Linked DNA regions of Homo sapiens. The protein of the gene in region 1 interacts with the protein of each later gene in a biochemical or structural test. Each region holds a gene or a part of one and is shown on either strand. Other genes may lie near its edges.

Evidence for each region.
Region 2: the proteins of TPM1 (region 1) and CNN1 form a complex in vitro, tested with the Homo sapiens proteins (one study listed by BioGRID).

The regions. Positions count from the first base shown.
Region 1 is NC_000015.10:63,052,741-63,056,553, reverse strand, and holds part of TPM1 (tropomyosin alpha-1 chain), read right to left. Parts: intron 1-3,813. UniProt on the Homo sapiens protein: Binds to actin filaments in muscle and non-muscle cells. Plays a central role, in association with the troponin complex, in the calcium dependent regulation of vertebrate striated muscle contraction.
Region 2 is NC_000019.10:11,545,114-11,548,926, reverse strand, and holds part of CNN1 (calponin-1), read right to left. Parts: intron 2,253-3,813; coding exon 2,186-2,252; intron 2,096-2,185; coding exon 1,958-2,095; intron 1,131-1,957; coding exon 1,020-1,130; intron 1-1,019. UniProt on the Homo sapiens protein: Thin filament-associated protein that is implicated in the regulation and modulation of smooth muscle contraction. It is capable of binding to actin, calmodulin and tropomyosin. The interaction of calponin with actin inhibits the actomyosin Mg-ATPase activity.

The DNA.
Region 1 (3,813 bases):
TTGGGACTACAGGCGCCCGCCACAACGCCCGGCTAATTTTTTTGTATTTTTAGTAGAGACGGGGTTTCACCGTGTTAGCCAGGATGGTCTCAATCTCCTGACCTCCTTATCCACCTGCCTTGGCCTCTCAAAGTGCTGGGATTACAGGCGTGAGCCACTGCGCCCGGCCCACTTCCGTAGAGTTCAACACCCTGGCTTTACTTGCCTGTTAAACAAGAGCGTCATCACGGCCACCTCACTCACTGGGGGCCTGAAGTGTGAACTGAGACAAGACTTACCCAGGCTCAGCCATGTAAGACAATAGCAGTACAGCCAGAAATCGGACTCAAGAGTTTCACTCAACTCTTTCCTTCAAGCCACTTTATCATAGGATCCTTACAAAGGAACTTAAATAGTTTAAAATTCAGTGGTTCTAAAATACACACCACATGAAGGCCCAACACAATCCAGTAACCCCTTTTAGAATAACTGGCCTCATTGGAACAGAGCCAAGACAAATTTCCCAAGTGTTTTTGATGTAAGCCTATGATTTTTCTTTGAAGTCAAGGTTAATACAAGAAAAGTATCAAACTCCTAAAAAGAAAAATAATACAAGTACTGTTTTTACTTGGTATCTGTCACTGAAATAAAATGTTGGTTTCTTTGAGAGGCAATGATTTTTTTCCTGTCATAAGAAATTGTTGCTATGAGCCTCAGAACACTTATAAGACTATGATGGTCCATTATACACACTTGCACTGGTGGCTGTTTAAATATTGTGCATGGAAGTGGGAGATGGAATTTACTAATCAGGTAAAATATCCTCATCCACTTTGAATGTATGTTCACTAAGGGGTGGTGGGGTTTTCAGAACACTTAGGAGTTTTCTAGAAATTACAATACACACTTAGGGACCCATGGTAATAGGATAACAAATTTCTCTACACACAGCCCTGTCTTTGTCATTGAACTGTAAGCTGCTCACATCCAGAGAACTCACAGTTCTCTGCACAGAGTATGGGCTCAGTAAGATGAGTAAAACCAACCTAATTTTAATAAAAGCAACGTTCTCAGCTTATGGATCCACAATACAGAGTTGGAAATGCAAATGTAGTTAGAAACTGTGGTCATAGTCTTTAATCAAAGGAATCTGAGAACCTTCAGCTCTTTGCTCACCTAGATTTGTAAGATTTTAAATGCCAAGTTTTATCTGGGAAGAGAGGTGAGTAGGGCATCTCCAACCACGGTGAAGGACTCTATAAAAACATGTAAATACACTTTTATCTTGACAAAAATGTAGTAATTGGTTGATGGAGGCAGGGAGCAGGGCAAATGTGAAATAAATCAGAGGAAGAGCATTTACAACTGTACTGCCTACAAAGTAAATCATTATCAGTGCACAGCTGGTAAATGGACCCAGCTAGGAATTACTGGCAGATGACTGTTGTTTCTGGTGTGTGTGTGTATTGAAGGGTGAGGGTAATAGGATAACAAATCTCTCAATTATAGGGAAGTGTCTTTTAAAAACCATTAGGCTTTTTTTTTTTATTACTATTACTGGAAGGATGTATATATTAAGGATATACTTTTGGGTCAGGTAAGATTTCTTCACTTTTCTATATTTTCATTTTCCAGTAAAATTCTATTCCTTTTGAGGGTGGGGGGGAGACTCAAAGCGGAAGCAAAAACAAAGGGCAAACAAAACAAAACAAAATTTAAAGCCACACAAAAAAACCAAGCACACAAACCAAAAGCCCTACAACAACAAAAAGCCTCCATAGAGTGTCTAGGTTATGTACTCAAAAGCACTGTACACTTTCTTTTCTTTCCCCCTTTCTTATCATTTTCAATATGATGGCAAATATCCTTGTTACAGAGGCTATGGCCTATTAGAGAAATGCCAGCAAGATTTTCAAAACTTTTTTGTAGCTACCAAGTTCCAAGTTCTCTGCTCTGCTTTAGATCTGGGCCTGAACCTCAAGGACTTTGTACTCACAGAAAGACGACTGTTTATGCTTTGGGGAAAGAACCCTCTGGGTGACAGGTCTCTATCCCCAGCTCCCCACACAGCCGAGTCACCAGAAAGGAAGGAAACAGCACCTCATGTTCATTCCAGCCTTGCACATGAGATCTTCCTACCCAAAGGGCCCCTACCAATCCATCCGTGTCTTCCCTCCGATCACCCCCACCCCCATTCTTTCCCTTAGCTCTTGGCACTGTGTTTACAGAATGCTGTTGTCTAAATGCCACTCTTGTTTCCCCAGGGGCATTCTGTAGAACCTCAGACTCCTGGACATCAGAGAATATGTCCTACAGGAATACCAGCCAGCAGGGCTTCATACAGGGTGCCCCAGCAACGACTGGGCATGGAGACCAGTTTCTAGGTGCCAGTTTGTGATATAGTGGGAGGAATGGTAGGGCACACACAGCAGACCTGAGAGTGGCTGCCCCTTCCTGAGGAGGCCCTGTAAATCCAAAAAATAGGGTCTCAATTTTTTAGCTAGAAGGATCCCTAGGCATTGTCCAGATCAGCAATTCCCACAAGTGGCTGAGTGTCAGAATCAACTCAGAGATGAGCATTAAAAAAAAAACTTTCAGCTGGGCGCTGTGGCTCACGCCTGTAATCCCAGCACTTTGGGAGGCCGAGGCGGGCAATCATGAGGTCAGGAGTTCGAGACCAGCCTGACCAACATGGTGAAACCCCGTCTCTACAAAAAACACAAAAATTAGCCAGGCATGGTGGCACATGCCTGTAATCCCAGCTACTCAGGAGGCTGAGGCAGGAGAATTGCTTGAACCCGGGAGGCAGAGACTGCAGTGAGCCGAGATCATGCCACTGCACTCCAGCCTGGGCGACAGAGCAAGACTCTTGTCTCAAAAACAAAAAAAAAAAAAAAAAAATCAAACTTCCAGGCCGTGTCCCTAGAGATTCTGATTCAGGAGGTCAAAGGGGGAGGGCAGGAATCTGTACTATAAATAAACAATCCCCTTTGCCACCACCCAAAGAAGCTGGCTATTCTTCTAGCTCTTGACTAGAAACAGGCGGCAGGAGGGAACTCTGACCCTGGGCACAGAAGTATGTGGAGGCCATACAGCCATCAGTGTGAGACAGGATTAAGATCCAAGTCACTAGGCTCCCAGCATGCCGGCTCTCCACTATGTCACTTCTCCTGGCTTCCCGGAACATCACGGAAACCTTGGAACTGGCAGTTCTCACTCCTGTGTCTTTATCTCTCCTGAGATCAGATTGAGATGTTCTCCGGCCCCCACCCCAACTCCCCACAAAAGGCCTCAGGCACAGATCCTAACCAGGACTGGGAGAACAGTTGCTGCAATGCAAATCATCTGCTAAAGTGATTATCACAATCTTTTTGAAATGAGGCAGGATATAAAATTGAAAACTTCATAAAACAATGCTAATGGGTAATAGGAAGCTCACATAAGGACACGGAACATTTACTCCCTAGCCCAGAAGTCAATGCCTACTGCCCCAGAGGTTTCAGAGCAGGACAGGCAGAGGGGCTTTGAGGTTAAAGCCAGGACCTAGGAGTAGTATCTGAGGTACACCTATCTTTATGGGAAAACCCTGAACCCATGACAGGCTCTGCAGGCCCTATTATACTGGCCTAGTAGAATTTTTGTTTGGCTCGTTAGAATTCAAGATATGCTTAATTTTATAATTTAATCAGGGCCACTTTTTTCTCTTTCTTATTTTTACTTTTTATTCTGATTTATTATGCTCTATGTTCCAAAAGCCCCACACCTCTCACCTTTACTAGCTTTTATTTCTGGTATTTTTTTTTTTAAGTTTTGAGCTTATTTCAATATTTTCTA
Region 2 (3,813 bases), on another chromosome or scaffold:
GGGTGAGCCACTGTGCCTGGCCCATTTTTTAGTTTATTTTTATATTTTATTTTGTTCTATTCTATTTTTTTGTTTTATTTTATTTTATTTGAGATAGCATCTCACTCTGTCGCCCAGGTTGGAGTGCAGCGGCACAATCTTGGCCCACTGCAACCTCTGCCTCCTGAGTTCAAGCAATTCTCCTGCCTCAGCCTCCTGAGTAGCTGGGACTACAGGTGTGCCCCACCACACCGGCTAGTTTTTGTATTTTTGGTAGTGACAGGGTTTCACCACGTTGGCCAGGCTGGCCTTGAACTCTTGACTTTAAGTGATCCGCCTGCCTCGGCCTCCCGAAGTGCTAGGATTACTGGCATGAGCCACCATACCCAGCCCATTTTCATTTTTAGAGACAGGGTCTCACTCTGTCGCCCAGGCTGGAGTCCAGTGATGCAATCATTGTAACCTTGAACTCCTGGGCTCAAGTGATTCTCCCACTTCAGCCTCCTAAGTAGCTGGGACCACAGGCAGACACCACTGCATTTGGCTAAACTCTTAAATTTGTTGTAGAGATGGCGGTGGAGGGGGGTTCTATTTTGCCCAGGCTGGTCTGAAACACCTGACCTCAAGCAATCCTCCTGCCTCAGCCTCCCCAAGTGCTGGAATTACAGGTGTGAGCCACTGCACCCCGCCTGAGGCATCCTTTCGAGACTGGAAACTGAGGCCCAGAGTGGGCCTATCACATGACTGACTTCTAGCATTGAAGTTCCAGCCTGCCACGCATCAGCTGGAAGATCTGTGCAAAAGCGAGCCAGCTTCTCCGGGTCTCAGTTTTCTCATCTGCGGAAAGGGTATGTTGATAACAAGCACCTGTCTGCTGGGGTGTTGGCAGAGTGAGTGAGTTTGTGAATGGAAGATGAGCATAAGCACAGTACCCGGCCTATAGTATAGTTAATGCCAAATATCCTGTCCCCAAAAGCCTTCAGACATCAGGGTGCCCTCCTGGCCTCTATGACCTCTGCGCAGTGAGGACAGGGCGGTACCTGCAGCCCAATGATGTTCCGCCCTTCTCTTAGCTTCCCCGGCTCGAATTTCCGCTCCTGCTTCTCTGCGTACTTCACTCCCACGTTCACCTTGTTTCCTTTCGTCTTCGCCTAGGTGGGGCAGGGAAAGCAGGGACTGACAAGGGGGCCTCCAGGCTGCACAGTCCCCTTGGACACTGTTTTTTTGTTGTTGTTGACACAGAGTCTCGCTCTGTTGCCCAGGCTGGAGTGCAGTGGCGTGATCTCAGCTCACTGCAAGCTCCGCCTCCCGGCTTCACACCATTCTCCTGCATCAGTCTCCCTAGTAGCTGGGACTACAAGCGCCTGCCACCATGCCCGGCTAATTTTGTTTTGTAGTTTTAGTAGAGACAGGGTTTCACCATGTTAGCCAGGATGGTCTCAATCTCCTGACCTTGTGATCCACCTGTCTCGGCCTCCCAAAGTGCTGGGATTACAGGCGTGAGCCACCGTGCCCGGCCAACACTGTTTTTTGTTTTTTGTTTTTTTTTTTTTGAGACGGAGTCTTGGCTCTGTCACCCAGGCTGGGCAGTGGCACGATCTCGGCTCACTGCAGACTCCGCCTCCCGGGTTCAAGCGATTCTCCTGCCTCAGCCTCCTGAGTAGCTGGGATTACAGGCATGCGTCACCACGTCCAGCTAATTTTTGTATTTTTAGTAGAGACGGGATTTCACCATGTTGGCCAGACTGGTCTCAAACTCCCGGCCTCAAGCAATCCGCTCACCTTGGCCTCCCAAAGTGCTGGGATTACAGGTGTGAGCGACCGCGCCCGGCCCCCTTGGACGCTGTTGACAGCACCTGCTCCCCGATCCCTGCCCCCCGCTCCGCCACCTTCACTGGGCTCAGGAGCACAAGTGGCCACACCTGCATCCCAGCCCAGGCTGCCCACCACCCCCTGCCCAGCCTGCAACCACACTCACCATGCTGGCCAAAGCCAGGAGGGTGGACTGCACCTGTGTATGGTTGGTGTTCTCAAACAGGTCGTTGGCCTCAAAAATGTCGTGGGGCTTCACCCCATACTTGGTGATGGCCTTGATGAAGTTGCCGATGTTCTCCAGCTAGAGGGGGGCAGGTGGTGGTCACTGGGTGGGGAGGGGAGGTCTGAGGGGCTTGCGGGCAAGGATGGAAGAGATTGTGTCTGGGCTCACCTGGTGCCAATTTTGGGTTGACTCATTGATCTTCTTCACGGAGCCTGGCTGCAGCTTATTGATGAATCTGAGAAGAGTGGGGAAGGGGTAAGAAAGGTGTCCCCCCAGGGTTGGGCACGGTGGCTCACGCCTGTAATCCCAGCACTTTGGGAGGCCAAGGCGGGTGGATCACGAGGTCAGGAGAGCGAGACTATCCTGGCCAACATGGTGAAACCCCATCTCTACTAAAAATACAAAAATTAGCCAGGCGTGGTGGCACATGCCTGTACTCCCAGCTACTCAGGAGGCTGAGGCAATCACTTGAACCCAGGAGGCGGAGGTTGCAGTGAGCTGAGATTGCAGCACTGCATTCCAGCTTGGGGACAGAGCGAGACTCCGTCTCAAAAAAAAAAAAAAAAGAAAGAAAGGTGTCCCCCACTCCCGCTCTCCAGCCCAGCCCAGCAGGAGGAGGGTGACGGGATGACCACAAGGGGCCATGCCATACCCTAGCGTCACTTCTCCCTGCAGTCAGCTCTCAGCTGCAGCCCCTCCAAACCACCCAAGCACACACACAAATGGGACACTGATGCCAAGGAGCTAGACTCAGGTCCCAGTCAGAAAGCCTGCTTATCCAAGGTGTGTCCGAGTCTCTGGGATCTCCGAAGCCTCACTGGCAGGCGTGTCTCAGCATCCTTTTCTCTTGTAGACAGCAGGAAGCCCACAAGGGCCTCTTCTCTGACTCACTCCTTTAATGATCTCGCCTCTTTTTTCTTTTCTTTTCTTTTTTTTTTCTTTTTGATGCAGGGTGTGGCTTTGTCGCCCAGGCTGGAGAGCAGTGGTGCAATCACAGCTCACTGCAGCCTCAACTTCCCAGGCTCCAGCGATCCTCCCACCTCAGCCTTCCGAGTAGCTGGGATCACAGGTGCGCACCACCATGCCTGGCTTTTTTTTTTTTTTTTTTTTTGGTAGAGAGGGGGTTTCACTGTATTTGTATTGCCCAAGCTGGTCTTGAACTCCTGGGCTCAAGCGATCCTCCTGCCTCAGCCTCCCAAAGCGCTGGGATTACAGGCATGAGTGACAGCACCTGGCCTCATTCAGTGTCTTGACTTTAAGTGCCTCCATATGCCAGCAACTCCCTCATCTCCCTGCAGCTTGGGTTTCTTACCATCTCATTCAGCTCTCTCCATGGGTGCCTGGGTGTCTCAAATCAAACTCACCCTGCTCCAGACTCCTGACATGCAGCTTCCCCCTCCAGACTCCCCCCTCCCTCCACCTTCCCTGCCTAGCAGTGCCCCCTTCTAGGTGCTCAGCCAGAGCCCTTGGACTTGCCCCCAACTCCCCCTTTCTCCTTCTCTCAGCCTCATGTCCAGTCCCTCCAAAGTTCTTTGGCTCTGCCTTTTAATGAGTCCAGAAAACCACCCACTGCTCCCCGCCACCTCCACCTGGGTCTCAGCCACCAGAGTCTGTTTCCTGGCCTCTTGTAATGAGCTCCCAACTTCCACTTCATCCCCTACAGACCCACCCTTCTTCATCCAGCAGCCAGAATTTTTTTTTTTTTTTCCGAGATGGAGTCTTGCTCTGTCACTCAGGCTGGAAGGCAGTGGCGGGATCTCGGCTCACTGCAACCTCTGTCTCCTGGGTTCAAGCAA